Linked DNA regions of Homo sapiens: region 1 is linked to region 2. The links come from fine-mapping of genetic effects on gene expression. A gene starts in region 2. The other region holds a variant in brackets. All regions are shown on one strand. Distances are between the middles of the regions.

Region 1 (12,116 bases), 460 kb after region 2:
AGTCTGGGCGACAGAGCAAGACTCCGTCTCAAAAAAAAAAAAAAAAAAAAAATATATATATATATATATGTACACACACACACATATATATACATTTTATACATATACATATATATACACACATATATATATTTTTCTGAAAGGCTTCAAAGAGAGGAGGTTTAAATTGCACTTTGAAGGATAAGGAGGCATTTTTCAGGATAAAATAGGAGATGAGGGCATTAAAGGCAAAGGTAGAATACTCAGGAAAGTAGTCTATATGATGAGTATATGACGAGGCTGAAAAGGGCAATTTAGGACAGATTACAAACAGCCTTGAATGCCATTTAAGCACAGAGCTGAAGGATGGTCAGATTTGTTTTGTGTAAAGACAACTCTGGAGACAGTGGGTAAGGCAGATTGAGGATGGGGGTTGTAGAATGGGGATAGATTAGAGAGTGAAGATTTCAAATAGCCAGACTTACCAACAACTGGAGGAGTTTTCTTGAACATTTTGCCTGTGTTCAATCTGTGATCATTCCAATAACTGGAATCCCTGTGTGTTTCTGTCACCTAATTTCTGCTGGTTCTCCCTGATGTGTGTTCACATGTGCCTCATTTTTTACTTTGTGCTAGACATCGTATTTGAAAACCTGTTTATTAAAGTATTTTGAAGCCTAGGACGATTTCTCCCTCCAGAGAGGAATTTTATTTGCTTCTGTCAGGTACCCAGGAGCTCTAGAATTCTGGGGTCACAGTAATCCAGATTCAAGGTTGGAGATTTTCTAAGCCACTGAAACCAACCCACAGACCTGTCAGACTATGCAAGGGCTGGTTTGCTTCTGGTTTATCCTTAACCCTAGGGTATAATCCTCTCAGGTCACACCTCAAAACAGGCAGTGGTTTACCAGTATCCCACCTTTGGTAGGCCCCGTACTCCAGCTTCCCCTGCCCAGCTCTACAAAACTTTCAGAAACACAACCCATTCTCTCCATCACCTCTGCTAAATGGGCAGTTGCCTCCAGGTCCAAGTGGCCCAAACGCTGGGCTCACCTGTCTGGATTCGTGTCCTCTCTGGGATGTTAGCCTAGTAATTCTTTAGTATCTTGTTAGCTTTTTGATGCTTTTCAAATGTTTTGGCTCCTAGTGCAAGAGTTGGTACAATTTACCTAGCCTCCCATTTACTAACAACAGAAGTCCTCTGTTTTCATCTTGGGCCTTTTACCCAGATGGTGTTTAGCTGGCGCCATGAGCTCAGGCTGCTCTTTGCTGTGGCATAGGGCTGCATACTGGGACGTGTGTCATGGGTTCCTAACCATATCTCTTACCCACTTTGGACAGCTCGTTGGTTCTGCTTAGGACTTCCTGGACTCTGTTAACTTTCATGGTTAAGTACCTTTGGATCCTTTCATAAGAAGGCCCAATCAAGAGGGACTGGATATAAAAGTACTTTGTAGGCCAGGCGTGGTGGCTCATGCCTGTAATCCCAGCACTTTGGGAGGCCAAGGCGGGCGGATCACCTGAAGTCAGGAGTTCAAGACCAGCCTGGCCAACATGGTGAAACTCCGTCTCTACGAAGAAAAAATACAAAATTAGCCAAGCATTGTGGCAGACGCCTGTAATCCGAGCTACTCGGGAGGCTGAGGCAGGAGAATCACTTAAACCCAGGAGGTGGAGGTTACAGTGAGCCGAGATCACCCCATTGCACTCCAGCCTGGGCTATAAGAGCGAAACTCTGTCTCAAAAAAAAAAAAAAAAAAGCACTCGGGAGGCTGAGACAGGAGAATTGCTTGAACCCGGGAGGCAGAGGTTGCAGTGAGCTGAGATTGCGCCACTGCACTCCAGCCTGGGCGACAGAGCGAGACTCCGTCTCCAAAAAACAAAAAACAGTGCTTTGTAAATACTAGATCCCAACCAGACATAAGGGTTTCTTAGTGTTGTGCTCTGTTTTGTTTCTGCCACAAGAGTGTTATGAAATATGTGTCAAAGCCCTTGGCTCTGTCTCACCTACCCAGCACAATGCAGGAGGGATAGGAACGCCCAGATCAGAAGGGGAGCAGGAGGTGGTGTAGGCCTGTGGAATAGAGTTACTGGATGTTGCCAAGAGTCTTTGATCCAAAGAAGGGGCTGAAGTGTTAGAACAGGGTATATTGATTTCCATCTGTGCCTGTCCTATTTCCTGCCGGAGTGTTTGTGCTTCTTGATGATTGTGATCCACAGGCCTGGCAAGAGTCCTCTGGAGACCTTGTCCTTTCTCAGATAATTTATCCTGGTGAAAAGTCTCATCTGTGCTCCAGAAAGCAGCACTAAACACTGAACTTGGAGCTAGAAGTTCTCTCTGTTTAGGAGCCATGTGCTTTCTGAACCTAAGGCTTTTCATCTATAGAATCTTTGCCTTTTTCTAGGACTAGCTAGGCATCAGGGATATAGCAATGAAGAAAACAGACCAAAAACTTTGCCTTATGAAGTGTATTTCTCAGTGTCATGAAATTCATTCAGGGTTTTCCAGGCCCAAGGGAAAGGGTGGGTACCAGCAGGGGAATAGGGGCAGCTTCACTGGTCCAGGAGCAGGGAGTGTGGGAATACCACCCTTGCTGGGTGCTACAGCAGAAGCTCTTTCCTCAGCCCAAGAGTTCATTGCAGGCATACAACCAGCTATGGGGAAAGAGTGAGGAACTCCTCTAAAGCAAGCTTGGAAATAATACTGTCTTCTGAGTGTATAACCATGAGATGACACAAAGTACATGGGAACAAGATTGCAGAGTTACCCTAAGGACTCAGATGGCCAGCCAGACTAAGTAACACTCTGGCCAATGGTTTATCAAAACCAGAAGAAGAATGTGACGATCAGAGGCATTCACCTCCTGGTACCCATGTGCATGCAATTCTGGAGCACATACCTAGGAGCAGAATTGCTAGAGTGGAATTTAACTTATCTTCACCTTTACAAGATCATAGTTAAAAGTGGTTGTATCAGGCTGGGCATGGTGGTTCATGCCTGTAATCCCAGCACTTTGGGAGACCAAGCCAGGAGGAGCATTTGAGGTCAAGAGTTCGAAACCAGCCTGGCCAACATGGTGAAACCCCTGTCTCTACTAAAAATAGAAAAATTAGCTGGGCATGGAGGCACACATCTATAATCCCAGCTACTTGGGAGGCTGAGGCAGAAGAATCTCTTGAACCCAGGAGACGGAGGTTGCAGTGAGCTGAAGTCACGCCACTGCACTCCAGCCTGTGTGACTCTGTCTCAAAAAAAAAAAAAAAAAAGTGGTTGTATCAGTGAATGACTTCCACCAACAGTGGATGAGCTGCCTTTGCTCCACATCCATAGCAGTGCTTGATAGTTTTATACTTTGTCAATTTTAGCGATTCTTGTTGGCTAAAATGTAGTGGCAAGTAATAGTGATTTTAATTCGCATTCTCTAATTATTAATGAGATTGCACAGCTTTTTTTTTTTCGAGACAGGGTGTTGCTCTGTTGCACAGGCTAGAGTGCAGTGGTGCAATCATGGCTCACTGCAACCTCAACCTCCTGAGGCCAGGCTTTTCCCACCTTAGCCTCTCAAGTAGCTGGGACTATAGGTATGTGCCACCACACTTGGCTAATTTTCTAATTTTTTGTAGAGATGGGGGTCTCCCTATGTTGCTCAAGTTGGTCTCAAACTCCTGGGCTCAAGTGATCCTCCCGCCTCAGCCTCCCAATGTGCTGGGATTACAGGTGTGAGCTACTGCACCCGGGTTGCACAGCTTTTAATATGTTTATTAGCAATCTGGATTTCTGCTTTTGTGAAGTACTTTCTTAACTCTTGAGTCCATTTTTCTTTTAGGTTATCTTCTTCTTAATGATTCAAGGGCATTCTTTAAATATCTTGTTTATGAGCCCCTTTATTCTTTATATGTGTTGCAAATTTTTTTCCTATTTATGACTCCTAATTTCACACTATTAGGTTAATATTAAAGCTAGTTTTTATGTAGTCAAATTTATCCATCTTCCTTTATGGTTATAAAATCATTCCTGAAGCATTGTTTCCACCTGAAAGTCACATGAGAATGTCACTCATACCCTAATAGCAAGAAAAAAGTCAGAAAACCTACACAATCACAACTTCTTGAGCCCATTAAAGTGTTGAGGTCACGAGGCAACCAGATACATTGAATTCCAAAGGATGACAAGCCCCTCTAAGCCAGAGAGGACACAGGGGCTGCTTTATCCAAGGCAGGAGCCAGGAGGAAGACGCAACACCACAAAAGCAGGAAGAAAGACAGTTAGGATGCGAGCACATGTGTGAAGGTGGAGTGTGAAGAGTAGAACAGTCAGAATCCCTGTAGCTCCAGATACGAGAGTGCAGCCATGCACAGCCTCTTCCACAAGCCTGTTTGGTGCTCACAGGAAAAACTGGGTGGGACCAGCCTGGTCAACAGTGTGAGACCCCATCTCTATTAAAAATTAAAAAATTAGCCAGGGATGGCGTGTGCCTGTGGTCTCAGCTACTCAGGAGGCTGACGCGGGAGGATCACTTCATCCCAGGAAGTCAAGGCTGCAGTGAGCCATGATTGCACCACTGCACTCCAGCCTGGGTGACAGCAAGCCCCCCTCTCAAAAGAAAAATAAATACAAAAAACAAAAAGAAAAAAACTGGGTAATGGGTCTGAGACTTGAGAACACCAGTCAGAGGTGCACAGGAAGAAAACCCCACTCATTTTCCAGACTCTTCTAGCAATCCAAGCAAAAGCCTTAAGCTGCCGAAGGAGGGACAAGAAACCCTCCTGAAAAAATCAACGGCCTCTGGAAGGGGTGCAGCAAAACCCTCTCCCCACTACAAGCCTGGCCACAAATAACTGTTGGGGGATGGGCAGGAACCTCTCCTGCCATCAGTTCCAAGCAAAGGTACTGTCACAGAGGCAGGGGTCAAAGCAAAGACATATCCACCTGGTGGAGGTGGGGAAAACCTTCCTGGGCCCAGAACCCTGCCCTGACACAAAGCAGAAGCCGGCCACCACTGAGGGAGGGGCGGAAAACTCTCCCACCCAGCCCTCCACGGATACAAGCCAGAGTTTGGCTGCCAAGGAAGGGAAGGGCAAGAAAGCCAAGAAAGCCCTGCCGGGCACAGTGGCTCACACCTGTAATCCCAGCACTTTGGGAGGCCGAGGCGGGTGGATCACTTGAGCCCAGGAGTTTGAGACCAGCTTGACCAACATGGTGAAACCCCGTCTCTACTGAAAATACAAAAATTAGCCAGGTGTGGTGGCGTGTACCTGTAATCCCAGCTGCTCTGGAGGCTGAAGCAGGAGAATCACTTGAACCCAAGAGGCGGGGATTGAAGTGAGCTGAGATCATGCCATTGCATTCCAGCCTGGGCGACAGAGCAAGACTCTGTCTCCAAAAAAAAAAAAAAAAAAAAAGGCCAGGCATTGTGGCTCATGCCTGTAATCCCAGCACTTTGGTAAGCCAAAGCAGGTGGATCACCTGAGGTCAGGAGTTCAAGACCAGCCTGACCAACATGATGAATCTCCATCTCTACTAAAAATACAAAAATTAGCTGGGCACAGTGGTGCGTGCCTGTAGTCACAGCTACTCGGGAGGCTGAGGCAGGAGAATCGCTTGAACCCGGGAGGCAGAGATTGCGGTGAACCGAGATCACATCACTGCACTCCAGCCTGGGTGACAGAGCAAGACTCTGTCTCAAAAAAAAAAAAAGAAAAAGAAAAAAAGGTAAGAGAGTCCCACCCTGAGA[G/A]TCAGGAGCACAACATCTGCCTAAGCCTGAAGCTGGACCAGGAAAACTGAAAAGCTGCTCCCACCGCAGGACTGGCCCTGATTAACATGCAGCGACAGTTTACAGCTGGACGAGTGGGAAAAGCATAAAGAGAAGGCCTCTTTCTCTGACGTGCAGGCATACAGGGCCTGCCGAAAGTGTAGGCAGAGCAGAAACACTGAGCAGAACGCTCCAGCACCTCAGGCCTCACGCTAATCAAAAGGTAGAAGTAGCCTACCAGTGGAGGCATTTGTTTTTTCTTTTTTAGAGACAGGGTCTTGCTCTGTTGCCTAGGCTGGAATGCAGTGGCGCGATCATAGCTCACTGCAGCCTCAATTTCAATTTCCTGGGCTCAAGGGATCCTCTCGCCTCAGCCTCTATGATTAGCTGGGACCACAGGTGTCTCCCACCATGCTTGGCTAATTTATTTTTTATTTTTTTAGAGACAGAGTCTTGCTATGTTTTCCAGACTGGTCTTGAACTCCTGGGCCCAAATGATCCTCTCACCTCAGCCTCCCAAAGTGCTGGGATTACAGGTGTGAGCCACCACACCTGGCATGTTTGGAGGAATTATAGGAACAACAAAATTCAAACCCAGCTCTGCTATTTAGTACCAGCTGGACCAACTCAATCCCTTACACTGAAAGCAAAACAGAAGAAAGAGACATATCCATCTATCGGCCAGGTGTGGTGGCTCACGCTTATAATCCCAGCACTTTTGGAGGCTGAGGCAGGTGGATCACCTGAAGTTAGGAGTTTGAGACCAGCCTGGCCAAGATGGCGAAACCCCGTCTCTACTAAAAATACAAAAATTAGCTGGGCGAGGTGGCATGTGCCTGTAGTCCCAGCTGCTCAGGAGGCTGAGGCAAGAAAGTTGCTTGAACCCGGGAGGCAGAGGCTGCAGTGAGCTGAGATCGCACCACTGCACTCCAGCCTGGGTGACAGAGTGAGACTCCATCTTAAAAAAAAGAGAGAGACACATCCGTCTCTGGGCATATATACTATTTAACTAGGCCTCTATTGGTTTTTTTTTTTTTAAAAGAAAGAACTTATCAAGTGATAAAGGAGACAAAACAATCAGAGCCAGAGATGAGCCAGATGATGGGACTATCACACAGAGACTAATTAATATGTTTAAAGATCTAGTGGAAAAGGTGAACGAAACACATAAAAGATGGGGAACTTGAGCAGAGGCAGAAACTACAAAAAGGAGTCATGAAAACGCTAGAAATAGACAACAACAAAAAGACCACCACAAAATCGGAGATGAAGAATTCCTTCAACTATATTAATAACGGACAAAATAGATTTCAGAGGCCGAGTGTGGTGATTCACGCCTGTAATTCCAGAACTTTGGGAGGCCAAGGTGAGAGGATTGCTTGAGCCTAGGAGTTTGAGACTAGCCTGGGCAACACAGTGAGACCTCATCTCTATTAAATATTTTTAAAAATTAGCTGAGTGTGGTGGCACGCACCTGTGGTCCCAGCTCCTTGTGGGGCTGAGGTGAGAGGATCACTTGAGCCCAGGAGAAAGAGGCTGCAGTGAGCCATGATCATGCCTTTGCACTCCAGCCTCAACAACAGGGCGAGACCCCCTCTCAAAAATAGCAACAACAACAACAGCAACAGCAAAATGGACTTCAGAACAAGGGACAAAGAGGGACATTATGCAGTGATAAAAAGATCAGTCCATCAAGAAGACAATTCTAAAAGTATATGCACCTGACAGCTTCAAAATATATAAAGTGAAAACTGATGAAAATGAAAGGAGAAATAGCTAAACTAAGGCCAGGCGCGGTGGCTCACGCCTGTAATCCCAGCACTTTGGGAGGCTGAGGCGGGTGGATCACGAGGTCAGGAGATCGAGACCACCCTGGCTAAAACAGTGAAAACCCCGTCTCTACTAAAAAATACAAAAAAAAATTAGCTGGGCATGGTGGCACGTGCCTGTAGTCCCAGCTACCCGGGAGGCTGAGGCAGGAGAATGGTGTGAACCCGGGAGGTGGAGCTTGCAGTGAGCCGAGATCACACCACTGCACTCCAGCCTGGGAGACAGAGCGAGACTCCGTCTCAAAAAAAAAAGAAAATAGCTAAACTACAGTTACAATTGGAGTCTTCAACACCCTCCCTCAGTACATGGCAACCAAAAATCAATAAAGATATAGAAGACATAATTAAGACAATCAAATATGATCTAATCAATATTTGTAGAACACTCTTTCCTACAGCAGCACAATACATACTATTTTCAAGAGCACAAAGAACATTACTCAAGACAGATGATATTCTGGACCATAAAATAATTCCTCAAAAATTTAAATGAGCCAGGTGTGGTAGCACATTTCTGTTGTCCTAGCTATTCAGGAGGCTGAGGGAGGAGGATCACTGGAGCCCAGGAGTTCAAGGCTATAGCGAGCTGTTATCATGCCATTGCACTCTAGCCTGGGGTAGCAGAGGGAGACCCTGTCTCTTAAACTGTGTGTATATATGTAAATGTATTTAAATCATACAAAGCATGCTCTCTGACTATAATAGAAGTAAACTAGAAATCAATGACAAAGATATCTGGAAACTTTCACCTCAAAGCATTTGGAAATTAAATAACACATTTAGACCTATAGTTCAAACACTCAGTAATTCCTAAAGAAGAATAAGAAAATATTTCAAACTGAATGAAAATAAAAACACAACAGGCCAAGTGCAGTAGTTCACACCTGTAATCCCAGCCCTTTGAGAGGGTGTGGCAGGCAGATCATTTGAGCCTAGAAGTTTGAGACCAGCCTGGGAAACAAGGCGAAATGTCATCTCTACAAAAAAATACAAAAATTATGTGGGTGTAGTGGCACATACCTATAGTCCCAGCTACTGGTGGGAGACGGGGACAGGGTGGTTGGGGGTAGTATCCTGAGGTGGGAGGATCACTTGAGCACAGGAGGTCGAGGCTACAGTGACCTGAGATCACTCCACTGCACTCTAGCCTGGGAGACAGAGAGAGACTTTGTCTTAAAAAAGAAAAAAACAAAAAAAGACAACCTGGTATTTCAAATGAGCAAAAGATCTGAACAAAAAAGTCACCATAGAAGTTATTCCCTACCTTGGCCAACATGGTGAAACCCTGTCACTACTAAAAATACAAAAATTAGCTGGGTGCACACCTATAATCCCAGCTACTCAGGAGGCTGAGGCAGGAGAATCAATTGAACCCGGGAGGCAGAGGTTGCAGTGAGCCAAGATTGTGCCACTGCACTCCAGCCTGGTAACAGAGTGAGACCCTGTAAAAAAAAAAAAAAAAAAAAAAAAGGTATTCCCAGCACTTTGGGAGACCAAAGCAGGCAGATAGCTTGAGCTCAGGAGTTCAAGACCAGCCTGAGCAACATGGCAAAACCCCATCTCTACAAAAAATACAAAAATTCGCTGGGCGTAGTTGTGCGCACCTGTAGTCTGAGGTACTAGGGAGGTTGAGGTGGGAGTATTGCTTGAGCCACGGAGGTTGAGGCCGCAGTGAAGCTATTTTGTGCCACTGCACTCCATCCTTGGCAACAGAGCAAGACCCGGATGATGAAGAAGAAGAAGGAGAAGGGAAGGAGAAGGAGAAGGAGAAGAAGAAGAAGAAGAAGAAGAAGAAGGAGAAGGAGAAGGAGAAGGAGAAGGAGAAGGAGAAGGAGAAGGAGAAGGAGAAGGAGAAGGAGAAGGGAAGGAGAAGGAGAAGGAGGAGAAGGAGAAGGAGAAGGAGAAGGAGAAGGAGAAGGTGAAGGAGAGGAAGAGGAAGAGGAAGAGGGGGAGGTGGGAGGGGGAGGAGGAGGAAGGGGAAGGGGAAGAAGTTGTTATTTGGATAGCAAATAAGCACATGAAAAGATGCACAATATCATTAGTATTTAGGGAAATACAAATAAAAACTACAGTAAGATACCACTACTTACCCACTAGAATTGCTCAAATTAAAAAGGCTAAATAGCCCGGGCACAGTGGCTCACGCCTGTAATCTCAGCACTTTGGGAGGCTGAAGCGGGCAGATCACCTGAGGTCAGGAGTTTGAGACCAGCCTGGCTAACGAGGTGAAACCCCATTTCTACTAAAAATACAAAAGATTAGCCAGGCATGGTGGCATGCGCCTGTAATCCCAGCTACTCAGGAGACTGAGGCAGGAGAATCGCTTGAACCTGGGAGGTGGAGGTTGCAGTAAGCCAAGATCGCATCATTGCACTCCAGGCTGGGCAACAAGAGCGAAACTCCATCTCAAAAAAAAAAAAAATTGCTGAAGATAAGTGCTGAAGAGGACTGGAGGAGCCACTGGAACATGGCTTAGAAAGCAAGTTGGTATAGCCACCCTGGAAAACAATTTGGCAGTTTCTTATAAAGGTAAACATGTACAGAACCCAGTAATTGCATTTCTAAATATTTAGTCAACAGAAATAAAACATGTCCTTACAAAGACCTGCATATGTATGGGGCTAGCAGCTTTAAAATAACTGAAACCAAAAAATAACCCAAAGTATGCCAACTGTGGGTGGATAAACTGTGGTACAGCCATACAGTGGAATACTATTTAACAACAAAAAAAAGTATGAGCTACATCAAATGGGTGAATCTCAAAAACCTTAAGCTGAGCAGAGGCAGCCAGACTCAAAAGGCCACATACCATACAATTTGGGGTTTCTTGTTTGGTTTGGTTTGGTTTTGAGACACAGTCTCAAAAAAAGATATCATGGATATCTCAGCTCACTGCAACCTCCACCTCCCAGGTTCAAGCGATCCTCCTGCCTCAGCCTCCCAAGTAGCTGGGATTACAGGCACCCACCACCACGTCAAGCTAATTTTTGTATTTTTAGTAGAGATGAGGTTTCACCATGTTAGCCAGGCTGGTCTCGAACTCCTGACCTCAGGTGATCCGCCCACCTCAGCCTCCCAAAGTGCTGGGATTACAGGCATGAGCCACTGAGCCCGGCTGATTTGGTTTTTTTTTTTAATTTAATTTTTATTTTTTTACAGGTAGGATCACACTCTGTCACCCAGGGTGGACTGCAGTGACACACAAATAACACTGTAAGCTGGAACTCCTGGTCTTAAGCCATCCTCCTGCCTCAGCCTCCCAAAGTGGTGGGATTACAGGTGTGAGCCACTGCTACCAGCCAACTTTTTAGTTTTTAATTTTTTAGTTATATATTGCTTTTCATATTGAAACATACATACTGCTTTTTGTAAAGAAGCTCAATTATTTTTTAGTATTGATTTGGTATTCAGCAAACTTTGCTAAATACCCTTATAATAATTCATCCATACATTCTTTTGGATTTTCTTTTCTTCTTCTTTTTTTTTTGAGACAGGGTCTTGCTCTTTTGCTCAGGCTGGAGTGCAGTGGTGCAATCACAGCTCACTGCAGCCTTGATCTCCTGGGCTCAAGCGATTCTCTCACCCTAGCCTCCTGAGTAGGTGGAACTACAGATGCCCACCACCATGCCCAGCTACATTTTTTGGTTTTTAGTAGAGACAAGGTCTTGCTATGTTATCAGGCTGATCTCGAACTGCTGAGTTCAAGCAATCCTCCCTCCTCTGCTTCCCACAGTGCACTGGGATTTTCTATGTATAAAATCATGTAATCTCCATATAATAATAGCTTTGTTTCTTCCTTTACAATCCTTACACGTTTTAATTCTCTTTCTTGGATATCACACTAGCCAGGACCTTTCAGTACCTTAAGAATACATAATGGTGAGAGCAGACATCCTCATATCATTGCCAATCTCAAAGAGAAAAAATGCCTTCAACATTTCATCATTAAGACTGCCTGCTGTAAGCTTTTTTTGCAGCTACCCTTTATCACATTAAAGTTCTCTTCTATTCATAGTTTTGAAGAGTTTTAATTTTAATGGATGTTAAATTATATCAAAAGCTTTTCCACATCTATTAGGCTAATCATGTAATTTTCCTAACTTATTTGCTTAATACAGAAAATTACATTGATTTTTCAAATGTTAAACCAATCTTGTAATTTTGGAATAAACCTAACTTGGTCAGATGCATTAACCTTTCAAATTATTATTAGATCAAATTTGCCAAAGTGTATTTTTAGTCTTTGCATATATGTTAATGAGTTAGATTGGCCTATAACCTGCCTATCTTTGTTGGGTGTTTGGTATCAAGGTTATGTCAGCCTTCTAAAATATATTGAGTAGCTGGATGTGGAGGCGGAGGCAGGCAGATCACCTGAGGTCAGGAGTTCGAAGCCAGCCTAGCCAACATGGCAAAACCCAGTCTCTACTAAAAATACAAAAATTAGCTGGGCATGGTGGGGGGTATCTGTAATCCCAGGTAGTCGGGAGGGTGAGGCACGAGAATTGCTTGAACCCAGGAGGCAGAGGTTGCAGTGAGCCAAGATCACGCCACT
Region 2 (12,116 bases):
GAGGGTCTCCCCCCAACCCCTGCCATCCCCAGATGAGTATATTTGTTATTTTTGTTAGTAGTTTCATTTGTGGTGTAAGTTTGTCTTTTATATTGTCATGGCTTGCTTAGTTTTAAATGATTAAAAATACATCAATTGCAAAAATCTCCCAGTGCTTGTATAAGAAAAACAATAGAATATTGAACACAGCCAACTTCAGAGGGAAAGTCATTGTCTACCATGTTCAGTCTAGCAGCCTGCTAGCAGAAGGGAAAACAGACAAACCTTATACTGTCTTTTAAAGGTCAGCACATGCAGACTTAGAGACCAATAGAGAAACACATTCCAGTGAGCAGGCAAAGTTCTCTTTGACTTCTGCCCACTTAAGAGTAAACTCAGAGAGTCAGCAAAAGTCTTTCAGTTGATTTCAGCTGCTGTTTTGGAGTCATCTCCATCTTTCCGAAGCCTCCTTCTCTTTTCTCCTTTTTTGTTCTTTCTTGATACATTATATTGTACATGTTCATTTGTATGTAAATACAAAATATCCTTCTTTATGGATCCATCTTATGTTGGTAAGTTTGATGAGAGTGTTCTAATTCTAAGCCTTGTCTCCTTAAAATATATAATTATCTCAGAATAATGCCATAGTTCAGTTTGCCTTATGTTTGGATTAGTACTTTCTTGTGTAGTTCTCTTTCAGTAAACTGCTCCCCTCCCCTGTTTTTAATTGCACCTTTTTTCATATACCATTTGCACCACATGTCTAAGTCATTGGTCTTTTTAAATTACACTATGGAAAGGTTAATTTTGGACAGAGTTGTTTCTAGATCCTAGTGCATTATCGTCATCCTAGGATTGCATTTCATTTCTCTTGTAGGCTAATGGTACTATTTTTTGGATATTGCAGCTTTAATAGGATGCTGTGTTCATTTTTCATTTCCTGGAGTCTGTGCTGAAGTTCATTTTCAGAAAGAATGCCTGGAAAATAAATTTTTTTTTTTCCCCCCTGAGATGGAGTGTCACTCTGTTGCCCAGGCTGGAGTGCCGTGGCGCAATCTTGGCTCACTGCAACCTCTGCCTCCCGGGTTCAAGTGATTCTTCTGCCTCAGCCCCCTGAGTAGCTGGGACTATAGGCGCATGCCACCACGCACAGCTAATTTTGTTGTGTTTTTCGTAGAGACGGGGTTTCACCATGTTGGCTAGGATGGTCTCCATCTCTTGACCTTGTGATCCGCTCGCCTCAGCCTCGCAAAGTGCTGGGATTACAGGCATGAGCCACCACGCCCAGCCAATAATTTTTTTTAAATTGTGTGTTTGAATTTCCCATTTTAGCCTTCACTTAATGGATGAGTTGGCTGTAAAAATCTAGCTTCAAAATAGTTTTTCTCAGTTTTAAAGGCATCACTTCATTTTTTAAAAAAAATCATTTAGTGTTACAATTAGAAATAAGCCCATCTGTTTCTTGTAAGTTGGTAAGTACTGCTGAGGGGAATTTCCCTCCCTCCCTTCTTGCCACCTTGCCGAGGCTGTATTCAAATTCCTGGGCTCAAATGATCCTCCCACCTCATCATCTTCTTTTTGCTTTTCTTTTTTCCTTCTTTTGTCCCTGTCTCTCTACTCTCTCCATTGTCTGTTCGTTTTCTTCATCTGCCTCTGTGATCATGAAAATATTCGCCATGTTATTGTTTACCGTTCACATTTAGGGCTGCCATCCACCTGGAATTACTTTTTGTATATACTGTGAGGTAGAGCTCAAAATATCCAGTTGACCCAGCACCACTTATTGAAAAGACAGTTAATTCCCCCACTATTTTGCAGTGTCACATTTGTCAGATATTAAGTATCCATATGCATGTGGTTCCGTTTCAAAACCATTTTTTTGCATTGGCCTCTTGTTTTGTTTTGTTTTGTTTTTCCATATGTTCAGCACACCAAGTACATTGGCCTCTTTCTTGGTGATTGTGCAGGTACCACAATGTTTTCATTACTATATTTATGTATTTTTAGTTTCAAACATATGACATTGCCATAGGTTAGAAACTCATCAGTTTTCAGCATTTTCACATGGTTCAATCCATCAGTAAGTTTTGATATCCAGTAGTTTAAGTTCCTCTAAGTTTGTTCTCAAAGATTATCTTAGCTGTTCTTGACTTTTTAAATTACTATGTAAAACTTAGGATCAACTTTTCAGTTTGATTTGAAAAGAAAAAACCTACTGGACTTTGCTTGGGGTTATGTTAAATCTATAGATTAGGCCGGGCGTGGTGTCTCACGCCTGTAATCCCAACACTTTAGGAGGCCAAGACAGGTGGATCACAAGGTCAGGAGTTTGAGAACAGCCTGGCCAACATGGTGAAACCCTGTCTCTACTAAAAATACAAAAATTAGCCGGATGTGGTGGCGCACGCCTGTGGTCCCAGCTATTCAGGAGGCTGAGGCAGGAGAATTGCTTGAACCTGGGAGGCGGAGGTTGCAGTGAGCCAAGATCATGTGCCACTGCACTCCAGCCTGGGCAACAGAGTGAGACTCTGTCTAAAAAAAAAAACAAAAACAAACAAAAACTATAGATTAGTTTGGGGATAGTTGATACCTTTAAAATATCATAAAACCTTAAAATAAAATAAAACCTTATAGGTTTTTCCTAAAAGCACTCCCTTAGTAAATCACTTGTACAAAAATCCGTGCCTCAGATTCTACATCTAGTAAACTGATTCTAAAACACCTTCCTAACAAGGGGGAGTGTGATGTCTTTCTATTGTTAAGTTGTATTAATCCTGTGTTGCATTTCATTTCAGTGAATTTTATCTTGAATGGATTAGGTAGATTGTTGATTAATTCAGTGACCCTCAATTGTGGGTGCCTCTCGGACTCAACTTTAATGAGATTTCTCTGTGTCATGATTACCCTTACTGCAAGAAAACCAACAACACTGAGATTTTTGGTGCAGTAGCACATGCTTCTAGTCTCAGCTACCTGGGAGGTTGAGGCTGGAGGATCGCTTGAGCCCAGGAGCTTGAAGCTGTAGTGTACAATGAGCACACCTGTGACTAGCCAATGCACTCCAGCCTGGGCAACATAGTGTGACTTGTCTCTAAAAAAAACAAAACAACAACAACAAATAATACTCATATTGCTTAACCCTGTCCCTGAACAATTCTGATCCAGCGTGTTTTTTTTGTTTTTTTAATACTTTTAATTCAGATTTTTACTTGTATTTCAGGTAAAATATTAAAAGTTATGTTACTAATAACTTGAAAGATCTCTTCAACTTTTGCTGTTCAATTTTCATTTAATAATGATATTCCCCCCCTCCTTTTTGAAAGCATCTGTAAGATATTAGGTCAAAGTAAGGCCTTTGCCACGACTACAAAATGCTTGTTAAGTACTCCCATAGAGTTTGTATCTTCTCCTTCTTGCTCAGAAAAGCTGAGCTACTCTACCCTTAGTCGTGCCTAGAACCAATACTTAGAAGAACTATGAGGGTGCTTCCAGCTGTGCAAACATCAACCCCAGCAAGAGAAGGCTGGTATGGTATGGAGCAGAGCGCACCTAGCAGGACAAATGTGCATTTAATGAGAGCCTGTGAGGTTTCAAGTTTATTATATTTAGATGTCCAGGATAAAAGGTGAGAAAGATGCTATCCTAGCCATCGAGGAACTCAAGCGTTAAGGGGAACTCTGGGTGGGACACACATTGTAAATAAACAATTACAAGGGTGGGCATGGTGGCTCACACCTGTAATCCCAACACTTTGGGAGGCTGAGGCAGGCGAATCACTTGAGGTCAGGAGTTCAAGACCAGCCTGACTAACATGGTGAAACCCTGTCTCTACTAAAAATACAAAAATCTCCGTCTCAAAAACCCCACAAAAAACAAAACAAAACAAAAATTATAGAATTGGCAGCACAAATTCCTATGTCCTCTTCTACCTTCCACTTTTCTTTATTTTCACTGATATAAAATAGAGTGAAACTTCACTTTGCTTAATGGGAGAAGTTTTTCTTTTGTTATCTATTATTTTCAAGACAGGGCCTCACTCTGTAGCCCAGGCTGGAGTGCAGTGGTGCTATCACGGCTCACTGCAGCCTTGAACTTCCTCTGCTGAAGTGATCCGTCCACCTCAGCCTCCCAAGAGCTGGGACCACAGGTGTGCAGGCTAATTTTAAAATGTTTTCTGTGGAGACGCAGTCTCAACTGTGTTGCCCAGGCTGGTCTTGTACTCTTGGGCTCAAGCAGTTTTCCTGCCTCAGCCTTCCAGAATGTTGGGATTATAGGCATGAACCACCATGCCCAGCCAAAAGAGAGTTTTTTCTTTAATAAAATAGTTCTCAAAAGCTAAGAGCTGATCAAGTATGAATATTCTTCCTTTCTTCCAATCTCCTCAGCACTAAGTCATCCTAAAGTTACATGATATGCTTATTACTTTCTGACAGATATATGAGCTGATAACTATAGAGATTTAATATTTTAATAATTATAAAGTTTTAATATTTATATGATCATATTAACATGATGGTAGTGGCTGATATCTTTCTCTCTTTCTCTCTCTGTCCCTCAGAGATGTGGTCTCACTTTCTCGCCCAGACTGGAGTACAGTGTTGTAATCATAGCTCACTGCATCCTCAAGCTCCTGGGCTCAAGGAATCCTACTGCCTCAGCCTCCTGAGAGGCTGGCACTACAGGCACACACCACCATGCCCAGCTAATTAAAAACATTTTTTTTTGTAGAGATGGTGTCTTGCCATCTTGCCCAGGCTAGTCTTGAATTCCTGGGCTCAAGTGGTCTTCCTGCTTTGGCCTCCCAGAGTTCTGGGATTACAGGTGTGAGTCACCATGCCAGGCCAGTAACTGGTCGACCATCTTGAATATTTGTTTTTGCCACATTGCATCATGTCATGCTTTTCTAAAAGCAGAGAGAGCTATTTTTATTGCTATGCCTAATAATGATAAGATGACCAGCATGGAGAGCTGGTTCGTACGGTTACTCCTTACTGGCTTTCTTTCTATAATTCCAGACAACATGCTTGCTCTTGTACAAACTGTGTTTAGAAAGTGGAAGAAAATAGGTGAATATTCTTTTTTATTTTTATTTTTTTGAGACAGAGTCTCACTCTGTCACCCAGGCTGGAGTGCAGTGACACGATCTTGGCTCACTGCAACCTCCACCTCCCAGGTTCAAGTGATTCTCCTGCCTCAGCCTCTCGAGTAGCTGGGACTACAGGTGCACACCACCACGCCCGGCTAATTTTTGTATTTTTAGTAGAGAGGGGTTTCACCTTGTTGGCCAGGATGGTCTCAATCTCTTGACCTCATAATCCACCCACCTCAGCCTCCCAAAGTGCTGAGTGCTGGGATTACAAGCATGAGCCACCACACCTAGCCAAGGTGAATATTTGTAATTGGTGATAACCTTTCAGCCTTGAATCTGTTTATTCTTTTTCTAGTTGTGAAGAGTTTTTGTAATTTTGGAACTTCTGATTAATTTCAAATTAGATTCAATTTCTAATAACTTTCATCGTGTCATTTTAGAAATGTGTTTTTAGCCCCTTGTTTTGTTGGTTTTTATCATTTTGGCCTGTCTCCTCTGTAGTCTACTAGGAACAGAGAAGGTGTGCACATCACTTTGATGTGGTCCTCTCTTCTGGGACCCAGCAGTTTACAGGAGCTGGTATATACAACTAACTACAGTGGGGGGTCCCCAACCCTCGGTCTGTAGATTGGTACCAGTCCATGGCCAGTTAGGAACTGGGCTGCACGGCAGGAGGTGAGCAGCAGGTGAACAGCATTACATTAACTTTGCGATAAGTGTGCCTGAGTTCTGCCTTCTGTCAGATCAGCAGTGGTTTTAGATTATCATAGGAGCGCAAACCCTATTGTGAACTGCACATGCGATGGATCTAGGTTGCATGCTCCTGTGAGAATCTAATGACTGATGATCGGAGGTGGAAGAGTTTCATCCCGAAACCATCTCCTCCCTCTCACCCCTCCTGCTATCTGTGGAAAAATTGTTTTCCACGAAACCTGTCCCTGGTGCCAAAAGGTTTGGGGACCACTGAACTACAGTATAGATCAGACTCTACTGTTACAAGTACAGATGATGTATTAGTTCTGAATACTACTGGGAGAAAGATTCTAAAAAGCAGTCACAGAAAAGGTGGTAAGACAATTTATGTGGACCTTGATTTCAAGACTTTCACAAATGAGGAGGGAGAGAAGATAACTTCAAGTTTGGAGAGCAAATGAGCATAGGGTGTACAGTGATAATGTAAGATGGTAGATGGTCCCATGTGACTAAATTGTAGGGAGACCCTACATGGAAAGCTGCTGATGATTATGGTGGGTGATAGGACTGAGTCTTGTCAGTCAGCCTTGATATTACACGTAAGAGTTTGGATTTACAAAAAAAAAAAAAAAGAAAAAAGAAAAAGACATCTAGGCATTGGGGTCCCTTTAAAGATCAGGTGGAATGTTTTCCTGATGTTCAGGATTCTTCCTGCCTGCCTCCCTCCTTGCAGAAGAAAAGATAGGTAGGTATAAGTAGTAGGTAGGTAAAGGTATGTATAAGCAGGTATAATTCAAAAGGTATATGAAGTACAGCGAAGTCATTGTGTTAGATAAAAGCAGAAACTACAAAACTGTAAGGTTTTGCTTATTTTGTCACGCTCTGCTTCTGTTTTTGGTGTTCTGTGGCTCTTTTCGCCGATCCTTTGTCTCAGCCTCATTTGTAAGTGACTTGTTTTTTCCATTTCTCATTTTTTTTTCCATCTATTAAAGTGAGGGGATTGGATCCTAGATCAGTTCAACTGGTGTAAGCCTTTAGAGCCAGGCATGGTGGCTCATGCCTGTAATCCCAGCACTTTGGGAGGCCAAGATGGGTGGATCACTTGAGGCCAGGAGTTTGAGACCAGTCTGGCCAACATGATGAAACCTCGTCTCTACTGAAGATACAAAAATTAGCCAGGCATGGTGGTGTGCATGCCTGCAATCGCAGCTACTCAGGAGGCTGAGTTAGGAGAATCACTTGAACCCAGGAGGCGGAGGTTGTAGTGAGCTGAGATCATGCCACTGCATTCTCCAGCCTGGGCAACAGGCCAAGACCCTGTCTCAAAAAAAAAAAAAATGCCTTTAGAATGTGGTTAGAAATAATTTTTGGATTGGTATAGATTAACTCTGAATGTTTTCCTGTGTTAGAGGAAGGAAGTGGGATAAATGTAAAGTTTAAAAAAAATGCTCCTTTTTCAAAATTTTGAGGGGTTAGGTATTAAGAATCTTTTAAAGTTTTACTCATTTAAAAAATTTAGATAAAATGGAAGATTCATTCTTAAGGTTGGTGATATCAGAAATGTAAGTGCTGTGTCATTGTCATTTCTTATTTTGGCCTACATAACCGTAACCAGACTTCAGACATCATGCTGCCTGTATCACATGGCTAACAGTGGGAGGTATCTGGTGTGTTCTTCCTGGAGAAATAGATTGAAATTCATTTGGACAGAAATGTTGAAGGCAGGTGCCTGATCCAAAATGCATTTAGTCAGGACTGAACACAAGCTGCCTGGATAGTTCCTGTAAGTAAGCAAGGTAGCCTTTTAACTTTGTGATGCAAGGTTTTATGTATGTGAGTATGTGTGTGCAAGTGTATACAGTATTTTTATATCCAGAGAACAGGGCTCCCTTAAATGGGGGGTGGGGGGGACTCTGGTAACTACATGAAAGTAAAATATAACTTCTTTAAACCTATATCAGTGTGTTCTTTCATGTAGGAATGTAGCTGTGTGATGGCCTCAGCTATTCTAGTAATCAAGGGCTCTCTGCTGTTGCTAATCCTATGATGAACAGGACAAATGGTGGTTACGAACAGAACCCTGTCAAGCCTGGAAATTCCATCAGTTTGTAATAGCACAGCTGTTGTCCTTGAACTGTGTAGGGAGGAACCTAGGGGTGGACAGTTAATATATTCTTCAGGGGGGTTGTAGTTTATTGCTCAGGATAGTCAAGATCTTCCTCAGTTGTCTGTTGCTATCTGCAAGTCTGGTTTGGAGGAGAAGCAGGAGAAATTCAGATTTGTCTGAGGAATCATATGTGTCTGTGAACTGTGTAAGTTGGTAGTTGATTCCTGTAGACATCCTTGCTAAAGATTTATTTTTAAGTAAAATATCATTTTGCTTGAAAGTATAAATCAAGGTTTTGTGGTTAAATAAATTAAAAACAGCACAGCTGCCAGACAAAGTTCAGCTTGATGTATAACAGGCCTCTGAAAGAAGTTCAGTAAGAAACAAATCTGGGTAATAAAGTTAATTAGTAACTAAAAACCTGCTAGGCATACTAAAAAAAAATCTGATGTTGAATATTAAATTATTATGAAGCAGGCTATACCTGTATCCATCAAGATTATAAATGATCTCCCACACTGGCGACGTGGGGTTCCTTTCAAGCCTGAGGAATGAGCACTATATTTTGGCCACAGCATTCTCACTAATGTCCTAGGATAGCAGCTTAGTGTTGGCTTTAGAATTCTCTGTCATTTAAATGTCATGCAAAAACAAACGTATAAAAGAAAACATTAACCCAGATATCTTTATGGTTCCTTGTCTTGTCCATAACCGCCCCCGCCCCCACCCACCCAAAAAGGACAGGCTATCAGTTATAGAGAAAATATAAGTGAGCATTATAAGCAGTATCCTACCTTTAGTAATAATTATTTAAAGTTTATTAAATGGGTTGTTTGGAACTCAAAATGATTTGCCTCAAAGTAGCCTAGGTCACTGAGAAGAAAGTTTATTTCTTTCTGCTGAAACTGACAGGAGGCGATATTTTGAAAGATAGCAAGCTTGTCTTTGGCATGGTATTAACTCCCTTTCTTTTGCCTCCTAGGGCTCCTGGGCCTGTATACCCTTTCCCTACTTTGATACCATATCTATATCTGCTTTATTCCCTGAAAGTTCCCATGTTGCCATAATATTTTTCTTCCTTTTTCACACCAGAACCAAGAACTCAGACATCTTCAATAGAACCATCTCTGGGATGAACAATGGTCTTTCCAGGGATGTACATTTTCTTACCCACTTTTAAATTAAGAAATAGGATTCTATACTTTTAAAAAGAGAATGCTGGCTACTGCAAATGAATGTCGGTAGAAATTTGGCTAATGTGACACAGTAAAATGAAGGTTTCCTAACACAGTGGTTAGGAAAAGTGAGTATGATGGTGGGAATCAGGCTTCTGTTCTTGCTTTTTTTTTTTGAGTCAGGGTTTCACTCTGTTGCCCACGCCGGAGTGCAGTGGTGCAATAGTGGCTCACTGCAGCCTCAACCTCCTGGGCTCAATCAGTCCTCCCACCTCAGCCTCCTGAGTAGCAGGGACTACAGGCATGTGCCACCATGCCTGGCTAATTTTTACATGTTTTTGTAGAGATGGGGTTTTGCCATTTTGCCCAAGCTCTGTTCTAGCTTTTCATGAGTTTTTTCCCTGCATTTTAGCTCCCATAGTAGCACCTTTCAAGGGGTGAATAGAAGAGGACAGAGACAGCAACAGGCCATTGGTAAACCAGATTGCCAATTTCTCATCAGACAGAATGAGCACAGACCCCGAGTGAGTGGCTCTAGATGCGAATGACCTAAAATTTTCAGGAGGACTTCATGGAGCTTAAAAGGTTCTTCAGAACTTCTGTGTAATTAAGTTAGATATTAACACTGTTTAATCTGTATAGACCTGTAAAATATTTTTAGTACAGTAATTAATTCCAGAGTTTGTGAACTATCCAAAGTAAAGCATACAACAAAGTACTGTGGCCTCATCATATATCCTTATTTCCTGTTTATGAGCACCTAGCTCTTAATAGTGAGATTGTAGTCAAGAGAGTATTTTATCATCATGCCATGTAGTTGCCTCTTGCCTTAGTTTACCTATTTTAAAAAACCCGGCTCACTAATAGTTTCACTTCAGGCATGTCATCAGAATGAAAGATCAGATATACAAAGTGCTGTGCTTGAAAACTGTGTGTTCCCTTAGTGCCTGGTTAGATAATACAGGGCTTATTTTCTGGCAGAGTGGTGTTGAGTCTCCTTTGATGTTAGCCAGAACTGGGTGGAGTTTCTTAAGCTCCAGTCAGATTGGCTCAAGCAGGGCACCATGCAGTGGTGAATTTGTTTTCAGTCCCTCCCTTTGCCAAAAAGCTTTTTTTTTTTTTTTTAATAAACCTCAACCCAATTATAAATGAGAATACTTGATATATGAAATAATATGAAATGATAGTTGTTCATATTCACACTGAGGGTCTTAGGGGGTTTATTTATAGCTAACTGAAATGATGCAGCTGAATTACAAGTAGCTGATAGAATAATCAACCTCAGTAAACATTTAACATAACACTCTCATTTTACAGATTAGAGAACTCAGCCCTGAAAGGTGACTCATTCAAGGCCACAGTGAGTGTCAGATTAAACTGGTGCTTCAGTAAAGCATACAGACTTCTGTACCCAGCTTTCAAATTCTCTTGACTCTTACTCACAAATCTATTTAAAGTTAACTTTATTATCTGTATGGATAGAAGAGGAATAGTATAAATGGTCAATTGGTCAGTGAGAGGTTTTTTTTTTAGAGTAAATGCTTCTCATTCACAAGGGTTCATTTTTTGATCCTCCTGAACATCCAGATTTGAAAATAATAGTGTCATATCCTTTTATCCATAAAATATGTAACTAAGCATTTAAGGCATAACCGAATAGTAAGTAACTTCAAGTGATTCTGTGTGAGATGAAATTCATACATGAATTTATTAAAATTAATTTTGGAATACTTGAACCAGTTTAACATCTATAGAGCATTTAAAGAGTGTATTGTACTTATACATGTTTCAGAATAAAATAACTATAAAATTGGATAATCGCTTTAATTTATTGAAAACTGGGGATTTCTGGGAAAAAAAAAACAACAGTACTTTAACTTGAAAGATGACACTAGCATTACCTTTCTAGGATCATTTTCCATAAGGGGGTGTGTGTGTGTATTTTAAAATCATATTCTATTTATGTGGTGACAAGTAAAGAATAGCTTAACTGTTGATGAAATACAGATGCTAAGTGGCTAGCTAGATGTGCTCATAGCTTCATGACCTTCCCACTTTCCAATTGTATAATTTTCTATCAGTTTTACCCTCTTAGGCTGAATTTCAGCTACTGTTCATATTCCATGAACCACATGCAGCCCAGGAAGTCATCTGAGAGTGTGTGGCTGGGGGCGGGGTGGGGGTGCTGAGGGTTGGATAGGGGAAAGATTACAATGGATAAAAGCTGCCCTTTGATAATCTGCATTCTGATAAATGATATTTAAAATGTATTGGTGTTTTTGACTGTATTTTTACCCTGTGCCTTAAATGAGGAAAAGATTTGAGTAGATTGCATCTTATGTCATTATGTATTTCTGGGGAAAATTAAATTTTGGATTTTTATGGTATGTTGTTAAGGATGGCACAGATGTCCTTTTAAGTTCTCTTTGACCATGAAACTGATGCAGGATTTTTGCTCCTTAGCTCAACTAGGTCCAGGTTCTTATCTCAGGAGCGGAAGAATTAGGCACGTGGACATCAAAGAGTGAGTGGAGTAGAATCTATTAATCGAAAGGAAAGCTCTTAGCAAAAAGAGAGAACATGGTAGGTGGTTCTACTACCTGAAGACAGGAAAGTTCCGTAATATGGCTGAGCCTGGGGCTCTTTATTGGTTCAGAATGGGAGTGTGTGGTCATTGGTTTGTGAGTATGCAAAAAAGGTCAAAGCGAAGACACCACTCCAAGGTGGGCAGGACAGTGTAGAAAACCAATTAGGAAAGGGTAGGTACAGGTTAAATAGGTGAAGGATGGGGATCAATCATGCCAAACGGGAAGGCAGGTTCTTAATCCGATCTCAGGATTTACCCAGGACAGTTTCCGGATTAAAGTTCGGGTTTCACTGAGGACCCGCCCCTGTCTGCCTAGACATTTGTTTGCCTCTTGCCTCTATCAAAACTAGTTACAGACGTCCTTTTTAGTTTTTGGTTCATAACAGCTCCCAAAGGATAACTACTAATAATAGTTGTCAGAGATAGAATAGGGAAATGGCATAACCGAATAGTAAAAGCAACTGAATAGTTGCTTTTCATGGAACC

Evidence for each region.
Region 1: its variant is fine-mapped to the expression of MAP4 in whole blood (TOPMed, PIP 0.97).

The regions. Positions count from the first base shown.
Region 1 is chr3:47,547,320-47,559,435 of GRCh38, reverse strand. No RefSeq gene overlaps it. Among named protein-coding and RNA genes, the nearest start is that of CSPG5, 25 kb to the left of the region's middle. The variant G/A (reference allele first, on the strand shown) is at 5,715.
Region 2 is chr3:48,011,762-48,023,877 of GRCh38, reverse strand. It overlaps MAP4 (microtubule associated protein 4), which reads left to right and starts at 7,462. Exons shown (of 21, transcript NM_001385682.1): 1 at 7,462-7,544.